Homo sapiens: one gene and its partners. The protein of the gene in region 1 purifies or fractionates together with the protein of each later gene. This does not show direct contact. Each region holds a gene or a part of one and is shown in the gene's direction. Other genes may lie near its edges.

The links. Proteins that work in one complex are often made in the same cells at the same time.
Region 2: the proteins of CDK12 (region 1) and C2CD5 purify together in Homo sapiens (affinity purification with mass spectrometry, with the first as the bait; one large-scale study listed by BioGRID). This does not show direct contact.
Region 3: the proteins of CDK12 (region 1) and PIP4K2B purify together in Homo sapiens (affinity purification with mass spectrometry, with the first as the bait; one large-scale study listed by BioGRID). This does not show direct contact.
Region 4: the proteins of CDK12 (region 1) and TMEM94 purify together in Homo sapiens (affinity purification with mass spectrometry, with the first as the bait; one large-scale study listed by BioGRID). This does not show direct contact.

The regions. Positions count from the first base shown.
Region 1 is NC_000017.11:39,464,486-39,467,985, forward strand, and holds part of CDK12 (cyclin-dependent kinase 12), read left to right. Parts: intron 1-3,500. UniProt on the Homo sapiens protein: Cyclin-dependent kinase that phosphorylates the C-terminal domain (CTD) of the large subunit of RNA polymerase II (POLR2A), thereby acting as a key regulator of transcription elongation.
Region 2 is NC_000012.12:22,538,043-22,541,542, reverse strand, and holds part of C2CD5 (C2 domain-containing protein 5), read left to right. Parts: intron 1-3,500. UniProt on the Homo sapiens protein: Required for insulin-stimulated glucose transport and glucose transporter SLC2A4/GLUT4 translocation from intracellular glucose storage vesicle (GSV) to the plasma membrane (PM) in adipocytes.
Region 3 is NC_000017.11:38,775,557-38,779,056, reverse strand, and holds part of PIP4K2B (phosphatidylinositol 5-phosphate 4-kinase type-2 beta), read left to right. Parts: intron 1-684; coding exon 685-723; intron 724-1,256; coding exon 1,257-1,370; intron 1,371-3,500. UniProt on the Homo sapiens protein: Participates in the biosynthesis of phosphatidylinositol 4,5-bisphosphate. Preferentially utilizes GTP, rather than ATP, for PI(5)P phosphorylation and its activity reflects changes in direct proportion to the physiological GTP concentration.
Region 4 is NC_000017.11:75,491,135-75,494,634, forward strand, and holds part of TMEM94 (transmembrane protein 94), read left to right. Parts: coding exon 1-19; intron 20-168; coding exon 169-321; coding exon of another isoform or gene 322-333; intron 334-556; coding exon 557-766; intron 767-1,339; coding exon 1,340-1,655; intron 1,656-1,794; coding exon 1,795-1,968; coding exon of another isoform or gene 1,969-1,998; intron 1,999-2,356; coding exon 2,357-2,459; intron 2,460-2,564; coding exon 2,565-2,782; intron 2,783-3,492; coding exon 3,493-3,500. UniProt on the Homo sapiens protein: Could function in the uptake of Mg(2+) from the cytosol into the endoplasmic reticulum and regulate intracellular Mg(2+) homeostasis.

The DNA.
Region 1 (3,500 bases):
TCCCAAAGTGCTGGGATTACAGGCATGAGCCACCACGCCTGGCTCATGCATGGCTTTTGTATTTCAGTGTAATTTTTGCTGACTTAAAGTTACAATTCATAAATGGTGTGAGTACATCAAGCTGCAGAGTGTTCCTAGCTGTCAAGGGCTGGAGTTCTTAATGTTTCCTCCTCCATTTTATTATAAAAAATTTTCCAGCACAGAAAGGTTGTAGTGAACACCCATATATGTAACAGCAAGATTCTACAATAAATATTTGCTGTATCCAGGCTGGGCAACATAGTGAGGCCCCGTTCTCTACAGGAAAAAAAAAAAAATTAGCTGGTCGCGGTGGTGCACATCTGTAGTCCCCACTGCCTGGGAGGCTGAGGTGGGAGGATTGCTTGAGCCTAGGAAGTCAAGGCTGCAGTGAGCTGTGATCACACCACTGCACTCCAGCCTGAGCAACAGAGTGAGACCCTGTCTCAAAAAAAAAAAAAATTGGGCCAGGAGTGGCTCACACCTGTAATCTCAGCACTTTGGGAGGCCGAGGTGGGCGGATCACGAGGTAGGGAGTTTGAGACCAGCGTGGCCAATGTGGTGAAATGCTGTCTCTATAAAAATATAAAAAATTAGTTGGGTGTGGTGGCGTGCGCCTGTAGTCCCAGCTACTCGGAAGGCTGAGGCAGGAGAATCAGTTGAGCCCGGGAGGCAGAGGTTGCAGTGAGCTGAGATCGTGCCATTGCACTCCAGCCTAGGTGACAGAGACAGAGTAAGACTCAGTCTTAAAAAAAAAAAAAAAAAAGCCATGTATTTTGTAATCTATCTACCTGTCCATTAATCTATCTTTTATTTTCATTTATTTCAAAGTAAGTTGTAGACATCAGTATACTTCATTCTAAACACTTTAACATGTTTACCATTAGCTGGATTACCCTTTTTTTTTTTTTGGAGGGGTGAGGAGTAAAATTTATATACAGTAAAATGCCTAAGTCTTAAGTGTAGCATTTGTAAAGCTGCTTTGTTTTTTGTTTTTTTTTGAGACAGAGTCTTGTTTTGTTGCCCAGGCTGGAGTGCAGTGGAGCGATCTCGGTTCACTGCAACCTCTGCCTCTCGGGTTCAAGCTATTCTCCTGCCTCAGCCTCCTGAGAGTAGCTGGAATTACAAGCGCCCACCATCACATCTGGCTAATTTTTGTGTTTTTTTAGTAGAGACAGGGCTTTACCATGTTGGCCAGGTTGGTCTCCAACTCCTGACCTCAGGTGATCCGCCAGCCTCGGCCTCCTAAAGTGCTGGGATTACAGGCGTGAGCCAATGCGCACAGCCATGCTGCTTAGTGTTTTAAGGAAGTCTAAAAAGTATTCTTAGGATATTTGTTTCTTGATAGAGTAGTTCATTAAGGCTGTAAAAATTGTTAACTTTAGGGTATGGGAATAGAGAAGAGTGTGCTAAGACTAAAACACTAAAAGGAGTTTCAGTAAGAAGTGCTTCTTTCTAGTGATTCCTTTTGGATTCTTAGGTAAAACAGCATATCTCATGTTCTCTTAAGAGAGTAGAGGAGGCTGGGCGTGGTGGCTTATGCCTATAATCCCAAGCACTTTGGGAGGCCAAGGCGGGCAGATCTCCTGAGGTCAGGAGTTTGAGACCAGCCTGGCCAGCGTGGTGAAACCCCGTCCCTACTAAAAATACAAAAATTAGCCAGGCGTGGTGGCATGCACCTATAATCCCAGCTACTCGGGAGGCTGAGGCAGGAGAATCGCTTGAACCTGGGAGGCAGAGGTTATAGTGAGCCAAAGTCACGCCACTGCACTCCAGCCTGGGCGACAGAATGAGACTGCGTCTCAAAAAAAAAAAAAAAGAAAGAAAAAGGCCAGGCGCAGTGGATCACGCCTGTAATCCTAGCACTTTGGGAGGCTGAGGCAGGCGGATCACCTGAGGTCGGGAGTTCGAGACCAGCCTGACCAACATGGAGAAACCCTTTCTCTACTAAAAATACAAAATTAGCTGGGCGTGGTGTCACATGCCTGTAATCCCAGCTACTTGGGAGGCTGAGGCAGGAGAATTGCTTGAACCCAGGAGGAGGAGGTTGAGGTGAGCCGCGATTGCAATAATTGCACTCCATCCTGGGCAACAAGAGTGAAACTCTATCTGAAAAAAAAAAAAAAAAAAAAAAAAAAAAAAAAAAAAAAAAGCAGATGAATCTCTACTCACATAATTTAGTCAGTAATGGTAAAAATAAGTTTAGAAAAAATTGGAGACACAATATGGTAGCGTAGCATGCAAATATAAACATATAATATTCCCAGAGACACATGCACGCTTTTAGTTGGCTTATAGAGAGCATTATATGTTTGTATGTGTGCATTACATGTTTTTCTTCATTGATTGAAATTCTAAACAGTACAAAAATTTTGTAGAGTCAGAGGAACATATAGATCCCTTCTATGATATTCTCTTGTGTTTTTTTCCTTGGGAGACAGTCAAAATGAAATAAGCAACATTTTATTTTATTTTATTTTATTTTATTTTTTTAATTTGAGACAGAGTTTCTGTCGCCAGGCTGGAGTGCAGTGGTGCGATCTCAGCTCACTGCAACCTCCGCCTCCCAGGTTCAAGCGATTCTCCTGCCTCAGCCTCCCAAGTAGCTGGGACTACAGGCGCGCGTCACCATGCCCAGCTAATTTTTGTATTTTTAGTAGAGACGGGGTTTCACCATGTTGGCCAGGATGGTCTTGATCTCTTGACCTCAGGATCTGCCTGCCTCAGCCTCCCAAAGCGCTGGGATTACAGGCATGAGCCACCATGCCCGGCGAAACAACCTAATTTTAAAAGACTGAAAATGCTTTGGCAGAAATGCAGTGTCTTTGCATCCGCTAGATTAGCAATGATTAATAGTTGAGTGGAACCTAACTTAATTCGGTGAGTGGGGGGGAAATACATTTGTTTTTGAAGACATTTCTTGAAGACACATTGCTTATTGCTGGCTGTGTTTACCTATTTGTTGTCTACTCCTCCGCTTTTTTCTAGAAGAGTGAACCTGGAACTTAAATGTAGCATTTGTATCACTAAAAATACCACAAGTATATGGCCATCCAAATCTGTTAACAGTAGGCTTCTGTGAGAAATTGAAGGGTTTCTAACAGACTTCCTTAGGAAGATTTGGTCATGCTGACTAAAACAGTAGTACTTGGTAGCTAGCTGGCATTAGTGTTTTGGGTTTTACATGTTTTCCCTGGGATAGAGATGTTACTTAGCTGTATTTCAAGCAGAGAAAAACTCTTGTTTCAGCCAAATATGTACAGAAGGAATGTTAGTTTTCTTAAGGGTAAGTGCATATTTGGTCAATATCAGTACCTTTCAGTATTTTATATTCTCATGTTCATGTTTGCGTTGTTGTTTTTTAGTCCTATTGATTCCAACAATATTTTTAGTTTTGTTTTTTTTTTTGAGATGGAGTGTCTCTCTGTCACCCAGGCTGGAGTGCAGTGGCGTGATCTTGGCTTACTGCAACCTCCGCCTCC
Region 2 (3,500 bases), on another chromosome or scaffold:
GTGGCTGGCACGTAGTCAGTGAAGGGAAGAGTAGTATAAGATAAAGTTGGAGAGTTAATCAAAGAACCAGTCTTGCAAGGACTAAGGCCATGATTAAGAGTTTGAATTTTACCCTAAATTCATTGAGAAGCCCTTGTTAAGATGAGCACTGTTATATGGAGAATGGATTGAAGGGGAAAGAGTAGAAATCAGGCAGTTAGGAGATTCTATAATAGTTCAAATAACAGGTAATGTTATCCAAGGTGATGGATTTGGTAATGCGGACAAGTGGATGAATTCCAGGTATATTTTGAAGATAGATTAAAAGATGACTCCTAGCTTTCTGAAGTATTGGGTTTTCTGATACTCCAGGGGGATGGTAAAGATTGAGGAGGATCATTTTCCATTTGAGCATGTTAGGTTTGTGATGTCTTTAGGGTCTTTAATTGGAGATGTTAAGGAAGTGATTTATGACTATGGCATTCAAAAAAAAGAGGTCTGAGTTAAAAATGAGCACACAAGCCAGTGTTTCTCAACTGTGAGACCCAGGACTCCCTTTAGATAGCTGGTATTTTGGAATCTACCCTTTCTATCCTGGCATGATATTTTTTAGTTAATATATCCTTACAATTAAAAAATCAGTACCACGGTTTAACTATAACAAATAGAAGTATTTGTTTTTGTTGTTATCATTATTATTTTTTTGAGATAGAGTCTTGCTCTTTCACCCAGGCTGGAGTGTAGTGGCACGATCTTGGCTCACTGCAACTTCCGTCACCTGGGTTCAAGCGATTGTCCTGCCTCAGCCTCCAGAGTAGCTGGGATTACAGGTGCTTGCCTCCGCGCCCAGCTAATTTTTGTATTTTTAGTAGCGACGGGGTTTCGCCATGTTGGCCAGGCTGGTCTTGAACTCCTGACCTCAGGTGATCCACCTGCCTTGGTCTCCCAAAGTGCTGGGATTACAGATGTGAGCCACCGCGCCTGGCCTGTTGTTATTATTTTAATATGGAAGTACTTTTTCATGACCATAATAGAAAACATGAAGTAATCAGATGAATCAATGAATTCAGCCTTTGTATGTATTAGACACTGTACTGGATGCTGGGGATATAGCAATAAATTTAAAAAAACTTCATTCACGGAACTTACATTTTAGTGGGAGGAGAGAGTTCATAAATAAGGTAAGTAAGTAAAAGATACAGTATGCTGGATGGTCTAGTTTTCTCTAGATTTTAGCATATACCAAAAATTACTTAAGAATAATATATGGAGAAAATAAAGCTGGGACACAGAATAGGGAGTGCCTCGCCTATGTTAAAACCACGTGAATGTGACTGCTTCTCAAACAGAGTGAGACAGTTGTGTAGTTTTGGCATCTCAGATCTTCATTGCCATTGGTTATCTGATTTTTCAAAATAGTCAACTCATGGGAAAAAGCAGAGTTGCCTCTTGATTTACATGATGGTTGTAGTTCTTGACAATTATGTACATTGAAACCCGATTGTAATACTTCTATCTGTAAAACTGAGGTTCTAGGTAGGGTTTTTTTTCTCTTTTTTTTTTTTTTTTTTGAGACGGAGCTTCGCTCTTGTTGCCCAGGTTGGAGTGCAATGGCGTGATCTCAGCTCACTGTAAACTCTGCCTCTCAGGTTCAAGCGATTCTCCTGCCTCAGCCTCCTGAGTAGCTGGGACTACCAGTGCACCACCATGCCTGGCTAATTTTTTGTATTTTTGTAGAGACAGGGTTTCACCATGTTGCCCAGACTGGTCTTGAACACCTGACCTCAGGTGATCCACCCACATTGGCCTCCCAAAGTGCGGGGATTACAGGCATGAGCCACCACACCTGGTCTTCTAGGTAGGTTTCTTACCCATGTGATTATCTAGTGGCACATTTGAAAATCATGACATGGTAAAAGTCTTCATTGTTGGGAACTCTCTTGCATTGAAGAATACCTGGCATCTCTGGCCCTTCCTCACTTAATGCAATTACTATTTTCCCCAAAACCACTGCTAGAAATGTCTAAAGCTTCTTTAGGAGTTGGAGTTGGTTCTGTCTTTTTTGCAAAGCTTTAGGAGTTGGTTCTGTCTTTTTTGCAAACCTGTGACTTAGGGGAAGGGAGAGAAACAGGATGAATCCTTGAAAAAACTTGATATTAAGAGGTTTATTAGAAGAGGAGGACTAGAGGAAGGAAACTGAGATTGTGAGCCAGTGGGTGGGAGAAAAATGGGGAACATAATGTCTTAGAAGGCAAGAGAGGAAGTTTCTAGAAAGAGGAAGGAAGCTCAATTGTCAGATGTCACTGAGGTCAAGTAAGAAGACAGAAAAATTATTGGATTGGACAACATGGGGGTTGTGACAAGAGGCATGATGAGGGTGGAATCCCATCCTGTAGTGATTTAAAGAGAAAGTACATGGGAAGTGAGGAAGTAGAAAGAGTATGAATAGGCAACTGTTTCAAGATGTATGGCTATGAAGGGGGGAGGAAAAATACTGTGGTGTTTGAGAAGTAGTTTTAGTACTTAAAAAATAAATGAAAAGATACAGAACCTATTTGTGTGCTAATAGGAATAATCCAGTAGAAAGGGGAAAAATTAATGCAGGAAAAGGGGGATAATGAAGGATTACAATATAATAAAGGGATAAATGCTTGATACAGACTTAAGTTCATAGAAGAGGGAGATAATGAAGCGTGGGCTTGTCATGAGAAACCTTTATCCTGGGCCTGGAGGATGGTAAAATTTACAAAGGCAGAGAGAAAAAGGAAGAAAAAATTTTCAGGTGACTAGGACAAACTTGATAAAAGCAAAAGAACAGAGTATGTATTGATGTAATTGAATGTATTTCAATTGAATGAATTTCATTCATATGTGATTGAAAGGAAGATTCTTGTTGAATAGAAGTGGGAAATAAATCTGGCTAGGAAAGGGGGATACAGATTACTGAGTAGTCCAAAAATTAGGAGGAGAGGTCAATACAGTTGAAGCTGTCTTAACAACCTCCGTTAAGTGACTCATTGCAATCCTCAGCGTTCTGCATCCTTCCATAAAGCGTATTCGTAAATACTCCTCTGGGTAAGACTACTCTCCAGTGTGTCTGGAGTTTCCCATCAGTTGGCTGATATACTTTACCAAGAGGCAGTTGTGTTTATTCCCAAATCTGCTTATGTCAACTGTATTTCTTACTATATTTTATTTAAACCTTATATAAATGAGTGAATGTAAAGACATGGAAATGGTTACTAAAAATAGCTCTTGAATTAGGTGGAGAAAAGACTGTAAAAAATAGAGGATTCTTTGTTCGTACTTTTTAAAGCAACCCAAACTGGAAATCAGAGATGAATGTGGCTTATGCAAAAAAAGATGACTAAACAGTTGACTTTTACACAAAGAAGAGGTCTTAGCCTTACATTAAAAGACAGGAATGAATGTTTGTTTATATGTTTTATCTTAAAATGTTTACAGTTTGTATTATTTTTAGTGATCCTCTAATTTAACCAAGTTATTTGATTAACTGATCA
Region 3 (3,500 bases), 690 kb from region 1:
ATCTCTAGACTCTGAGAAGGACACACTTGTGGCTGTGAACTAGGGTGCTCCGTGTTCTTGAACCTGGCTTCTGACTTCTGTCACCTTATGCCGCCATCCCTTCCCTCTGTGCTGCAACTGGGCTGGTTTCCTCTGTGTTCCTGCAGTGCCTGTGCTCCTCTTCCCAGGATTTCACATCTGCTGTCTGGAATAGTCTCCTTCTCTCTCTCCACCCACTCCTTCCCCCACCTAATTGCTTCCTCCTTACCCTTCTGAGCTCAGCCCAAATACTACTTCCAGGAAGTAGGTAGGCCCTGGCCACTGTCCCTCCCCAGGCCGGGCCCGTGTGGTATGTGCTTTCAGAGTGTCCTGCTCCTCCCTGTACCACTGAGCACCGTGGTAGTGAATGAACTAATGACTTGTGGAACCACTGCTGAATATCTGTCTCCCCTGTTAGAAGGAAAGTAGCTCAAGGGCAGGGACTGAGCTTCTCCAGTGCAGTCCTGTTTGCTGAGCACCTAAAAAGTGTCTTGCACATAGAGCTCTATAAGTGGGCTTGACACAGTAAATGAACAAGGTGCTGCCTCCTGGCCCCTCTAGGACTCTAACAAGCCTACTTGAGTTCACCTGCTGGCTCTCCCATGTTTGCTCATGCAGTCGACTTTGCCTCAGCTTGACTTCCCCTGATGGCTCTTATCCTTTCAGGGTTCTACGGTTGCCAGAGAAGCGAGCGACAAGGAGAAGGTATGCTGGTGCTGAGCAGGAATGGAAGGGTCGCTTGGAGTCAGAAACAACTCCTGTCGGCCATCCTGTCCCTCGCCCACCCCAGCCCCTAGCCCAGCTCCCAGACATGCCGTCTGTCAACATGAAATGCCGTGTGTCATGAATCACCTGTCTGTCCTTGTGCTAGGCCTAGACCTTGGTCTCTGGTCTTTTACCTCTGCCCTCACTACGTTCTTCATAGTCCTGCTGGGATGGCAGACATTTCTATCTCATAGTCCAGCCTGAGTCAGTCAGTGGCTGCCTGAGCCCTGAGCTGGTCCAGGCTCAACAGGAAAGAATCCTTTAGTCATTCCTCATCTTTCATGTGTTTGCCCTCCCTGCCCACCCAAAGCCTGGGACTAGAGGCTCCTGCACTGCTGATTTAGCAGGTTGAGGGTCGGTACACTGACAACCCCTCCTTCCCCTTTCTGTATAGTTGCTCCCGGCAGAACAGTTGGGTGTCCCTGGGGTGAATTAATCAGGCTTACCCAGCCTAACTGCTGTTGCTCTCCTAGGCCAAGGACTTGCCAACATTCAAAGACAATGACTTCCTCAATGAAGGGCAGAAGCTGCATGTGGGAGAGGAGAGTAAAAAGAACTTCCTGGAGAAACTGAAGCGGGACGTTGAGGTACTTACTAACCTTCATTTTCACCTGCAAGGCTCCTTCTGTACCTAGAGTAGGCGCCTCTTAAACCTTAAGAAGAATGGAATTCAGTACTTTCCAGGAGTATGGACAAAAGGGTGGTGATTTGAGCAGCGTGGGCACTTATGGGCACCTAAAGCAAGTGCAAATGATCATTCCACCTGACGGAGCATAGTTGGCGCCAGTAGGACCTTTGTAATTTAGTTTAGAATGCTTTTCCCTTTTCACTAATTCATTCCAACACCTTTTTCAAACTCCCTTCTGCTGTTGTCCCTACAATGGAGAGGGCATCTGGCCATCAGAGCTGTAGGAACCCAGCTATTAAGGTCCTGTAACCCCAACATTTTGGGAGGCTGAGGTGGGAGGATCGCTTGAGCTCAGCAGTTCAATACCAGCCTAGGCAACATAGCAAGACCTCATCTCTACTAAAAATTAAAAAATTTAGCCAGGCGTAGGGGCACACACCTGTAGTCCCAGCTACTTGGGAGGCTGAGGCGAAAGGATTGTTTGAGCCCGGGAGATGAGGCTGCAGTGAGCTGTGGTCTCACCACTACACTCCAGCCTGGGCAACAGAGCAAGACATTGTCTCAAAACAAAAACCGAAAAAGTTGGCTAAGCATGGTGGCTTACTCTTGTAATCCCAGCACCTTGGAAGGGTGAGGCAGGAGGATCACTGGAGCCTGGCAGATCAAGGCAACATGAGCTGTGATCATGCCACTGTGCTCCAGCCTGGGTGACAGAGCAAGACCCTGTCTCAAAAAACAAAAATCCACTAATCAGGTTCTTCTCTGGCTCTGGCTCTGATTCTCCACTTACCTAGCAAACTTCTGTTTGTAATCTGGGGAGGACAGGTGCTAAATAGTGAAAATGTTATCTGGACCACTTGATAACTCAGCGTCTCCTTCTCTTTTAATAAATTGAGAGGCTGCTCGTTAAAACCAAATCCTACAAACAAACTTGGGAAAAAAAATTTTTTTTAATTGTGGTAAAATACATATAATAATAGGTGTTTTTTTTGTTTGTTTGTTTGTTTTGTTTTTTTTTAGGAGATTCTCGTTCTGTCCCCAGGCTGGAGTGCAGTGCAGTGGCACGATCTCGGCTCACTGCAACCTCCGCCTCCTGGGTTCAAGTGATTCTCCTACCTCAGCCTCCCAAGTAGCTGGGACTATAGGCACGCACCTTAACCATTTTGATATATAGTTGAGTGGCATTAAGTATATTCACATTGTTATGCAACCAGCACTACCATTCATCTCTGAACTTTTATCTTTCCCAGCTGAAACTCTATACCCATTAAATACTAATTCCCAATTCCCCCTCCCTAACCCCTGGCAATCAGTGTTCAATTTTCTGCCCCTATGAAGTTGACTACTCTAGGAACTTCACATAAGAGGAAGCAAACAGCCAAGCGAGGTGGCTCATGCCTGTAATCCCAGCACTTTGGGAGGCTGAGGTGGGCGGATCTTCTGAGGTCAGGAGTTTGAGACCAGCCTGACCAACATGGAGAAACCCAGTCTCTACTGAAAATACAAAATTAGCCGGGCATGGTGGTGCACGCCTGTAATCCCAGCTACTTGGGAGGCTGAGGCAAGAGAATCGCTTGAACCCAGGAGGCGGAGGTTGCGGTGACCCTCCAGCTTGGGCAACATGTTATGAATGAAACTCCATCTCAAAAAATAAAAAAAAAAAAAGGAAGCAAACAGCAGTTGTCCTTTTGTGACTCTGTTATTTTGCTTAGCATAATGTCTTCAGGGTTCATCCATACTGTATCATGTGTCAGAATTTTTTTCTTTTTATTATTTATTTATTTGTTTTGAGACAGAGTCTCGCTCTGTTGCCAGGCTGGAGTGCAGTGGTGCGATCTCGGCTCACTGCAACCTCCGCCTCCCGGGTTCAAGCGATTCTCCTGCTTCAGCCTCCCAAGTAGCTGGGACTACAGGCGCGTGCTGCCACGCCCAGCTAATTTTTGTATTTTTTTAGTGGAGACGGGGTTTCACCATGTTGACCAGGATGGTTTCGATCTCCTGACCTCGTGATCTGCCTGCCTCGGCCTCCCAGAGTGCTGGGATTACAGGCGTGAGCCACCACACCTGGCCAGAATTTCTTTCTTTTTAA
Region 4 (3,500 bases), about 36 Mb from region 1:
CAGCCTGGGCTCTGTCACGGTGAGGGTGGGCCTTGCGGGGAGGAGGCAACTGTCATGCCCGCCCTGCTCTCTGGCTGGGCCTGGGCTGCCCACCTGCCGCTTGAGTGGCCCCTGGGCAGGATAGGCTAATGCCAGGCCCCTTTCCTATCTCAAATGCTTTCCATGCAGGTCCTGTGCTGTGTGGACAAACAGGGGATCCTGTCATGGCCAAATCCCAGCCCAGAGACTGTACTGTTCTTCAGCGGGAAGGTGGAGCCCCCTCACAGCAGCCATGAGGACCTCACCGATGGCCTATCCACCCGCTCCTTCTGCCATCCCGAGGTAGAGGAGGAGGTACGGCCGGCTCCCATGGGCCCGACTCTGGGCCAGGCTGTTTAGCCTTGGAGCCTGGCCAGGGAGGGTGAGGTTTCGGAGGGCGAAGGAGGGTTTGGGCACCATTAGGATCTGCTTCTGGGCAGGTGAGGTGAAGACAAGGCAGCCAGGGGACCTAGAAGCATCCTGCCTCCCCAGGCCATGGGAGCCACTGGTCCTAGCCTGTGCTCCTCATTCTCTTCAGCCCCATGAACGAGACGCCCTCCTGGCTGGCTCCCTGAACAACACCCTGCACCTTTCCAATGAGCAGGAGCGTGGCGACTGGCCTGGCGAGGCTCCCAAGCCCCCCGAGCCCTATTCACACCACAAAGCGCATGGCCGCAGCAAACACCCATCTGGCTCCAACGTGAGCTTCAGCAGGGACACCGAGGGTGGTGAAGAAGAGCCCAGCAAGGTGACGGGAGGGGGTGGCACGGGGCAGCCACACCCTCGGCCACAGGCTGTCCTGGCCTCCCTGGCCAGCCTGGCCTCACAAGGTCTGAAAGAGCAGGCGTCTCTGCCCTCTGTCCCAGCACCTCCAGGCTAGGCCAGTGGTCCCTGAGGCCCTCCCCAAGTCTGCTGCGAAGTAGGTGGAGCCTCCCCCTACCCTTCCATTCTTGTAATCGCAATCACTGGTGTCCCTACTGGAACCTTCCAAATATACACAGCCCGGAGCTCCCTCTTAGAGATGTTCCCTGGCCACAGAAGATCCCTCAACTGTGTCCTCTTTGGTCTGGCCACCCCTCTTTTTAGCTCCTGCCAGTGTCATGAGATATATTAATAGTCCATAGAAGCAGACAGGAGCCCAAGAAGGACAGGAAGCGGATTTCAGGAGGGAGCGGGTGGAAGAGGGTGAGCAGCAGCTCTCTCCTGGGAAGGGTGCCTTTCAGGGGCAGGAGCCCTCCCCAGCCTTGGGAGGTGGGCAGAGCCAGTGCTGGCTTCCCCACACCCTATCCCGGGCTGAGGCTCTCCTCCACATTTCCCCCAGACCCAGCCTGGGATGGAGAGCGACCCCTACGAAGCAGAGGACTTTGTGTGTGACTACCACCTGGAGATGCTGAGCCTGTCCCAGGACCAGCAGAACCCCTCCTGCATCCAGTTTGATGACTCCAACTGGCAGCTGCACCTCACCTCCCTCAAACCCCTGGGCCTCAATGTGCTGCTGAACCTGTGTGATGCCAGCGTCACCGAGCGCCTGTGCCGATTCTCCGACCACCTGTGCAACATCGCCCTGCAAGAGAGCCACAGCGCCGTGCTGCCCGTCCATGTGCCCTGGGGCCTCTGCGAGCTTGCCCGCCTCATTGGTACAGGTCCCCATGGCAGGGGATGGCTGGCTGGACCCGCCTCCTAGAAGAGGCCCAGTACCAACTCCTCACGGGACTTAATGGACCTGGCAGGGTATTGCCAGGGCATGGCCCTAAGTTCCTGTTCCCCGCCCTGCAGGCTTCACTCCTGGGGCCAAGGAGCTTTTCAAGCAGGAGAACCATCTGGCGCTGTACCGCCTCCCCAGTGCCGAGACAATGAAGGAGACATCGCTGGGGCGGCTCTCCTGTGTCACCAAGCGGCGGCCTCCCCTCAGCCACATGATCAGCCTCTTCATTAAAGACACCACCACCAGTGAGCCCTGGCTACGTTGGCCAGCACCAGGCGAGACCTTCCAGAGCTTGGCAGGGGGGCTCTGCCCAGCCCCACCCATTGCTAGGGAGGCCTGGGCAGATGAAAAGTAGACTGCTTCCAAGTGTTCCACTCTGGCAGGGCTGGAATTGGGGACCAGGGCTGGGATGGTGTTGGCTGCAGAGGCCGGGATTGTCCAAAGGATGGGAATATGGTGTCTGCATTCCAAGCCCAGTGGCATTGCAGAGCCTTGCTGTCCGTGAGTCCCAGGGAGTCTCCTCCTCTGGCAGGGGCTCCTCAGCGCCCTTCTCCAGGAGGACAGTGCGTTGCCTGTCAGGTCAGCGTGAGGGGGCTGGTTAGCGACACTCAGGGTTTGAACTCTCTCCCCCAGGCACAGAGCAGATGCTGTCCCATGGCACCGCTGATGTGGTCTTAGAGGCCTGCACAGACTTCTGGGACGGAGCTGACATCTACCCTCTCTCGGGATCTGACAGGTGGGTGAGGAAGCACATGCCAGCAGCAAGAGCAGTCGCGCTGCCGGGGCACCTGCCCTTCACAGGCAGGAACACTCACCTCACCTCCGCCTGCTTCCCTGGCAGAAAGAAAGTGCTGGACTTCTACCAGCGAGCCTGCCTGTCTGGGTATTGCTCTGCCTTCGCCTACAAGCCCATGAACTGCGCCCTGTCCTCTCAGCTCAATGGCAAGTGCATCGAGCTGGTACAGGTGCCCGGCCAAAGCAGCATCTTCACCATGTGCGAGCTGCCCAGCACCATCCCCATCAAGCAGAACGCCCGCCGCAGCAGCTGGAGCTCTGACGGTACCTCATGGGTCTGTCCAGCGGGGCTGGTGCTGGGGCTCCCCTGGGCTGCCGAAGCCCAGGAGCAGGGAGGGCGTCTGGAGGGCCCCGGCACCCCCCACAGCAAAGGGGGCAGTGGCCACAGCCCCAGGCTGGGACGCCAGTGTGGCACTCTATCCGGGGACATGGGGAGTCCCTTAGTTTCCTCCCTTATCAGTGGGTGCTCACTTGGCCTGCCTCACTGGTTGGTTGTGATGCTCAAGTGGGTTACGTGTATCAGAATGCTTTCCTGGGAAGTTACCAAGCAGCGTTCCTAGAGCATTAGGCTTAGTAGGATCAGACAGGAGATCAGGTCTGTCACCCTGCTGGTGCAGAGGGGCCCAGAAGCTCCACCACGCCACCCCATTCCCACCAGACACGCACACTTCCCAGGTTTTTTGAACCCAAGAGACTGTGAATTGAAACAGTTGCTGAGGGTAGGGCCAGTACCCCCTGGGCAGGAGCTGAAGCCACGCCTTGTTGTAGCTTCCAGCTCAGATTCGGCTACCTGACTGATGCATACCTTTCACTGTCTTTTCTCCTGTGTCTGTCGGCTCCTTCGTGTGTCTTGGCTGTGTGTGGTCCCCTGGGGCCCATATGCTCATTGATTTGGGTGTGGCATCTGTGTGTGTGGCCCTGGGCTGGTTCCTGGGTGTCCTGATCGGGCTGTGTCCTGTGTGTCCTGCCTGAAGAAGGGATC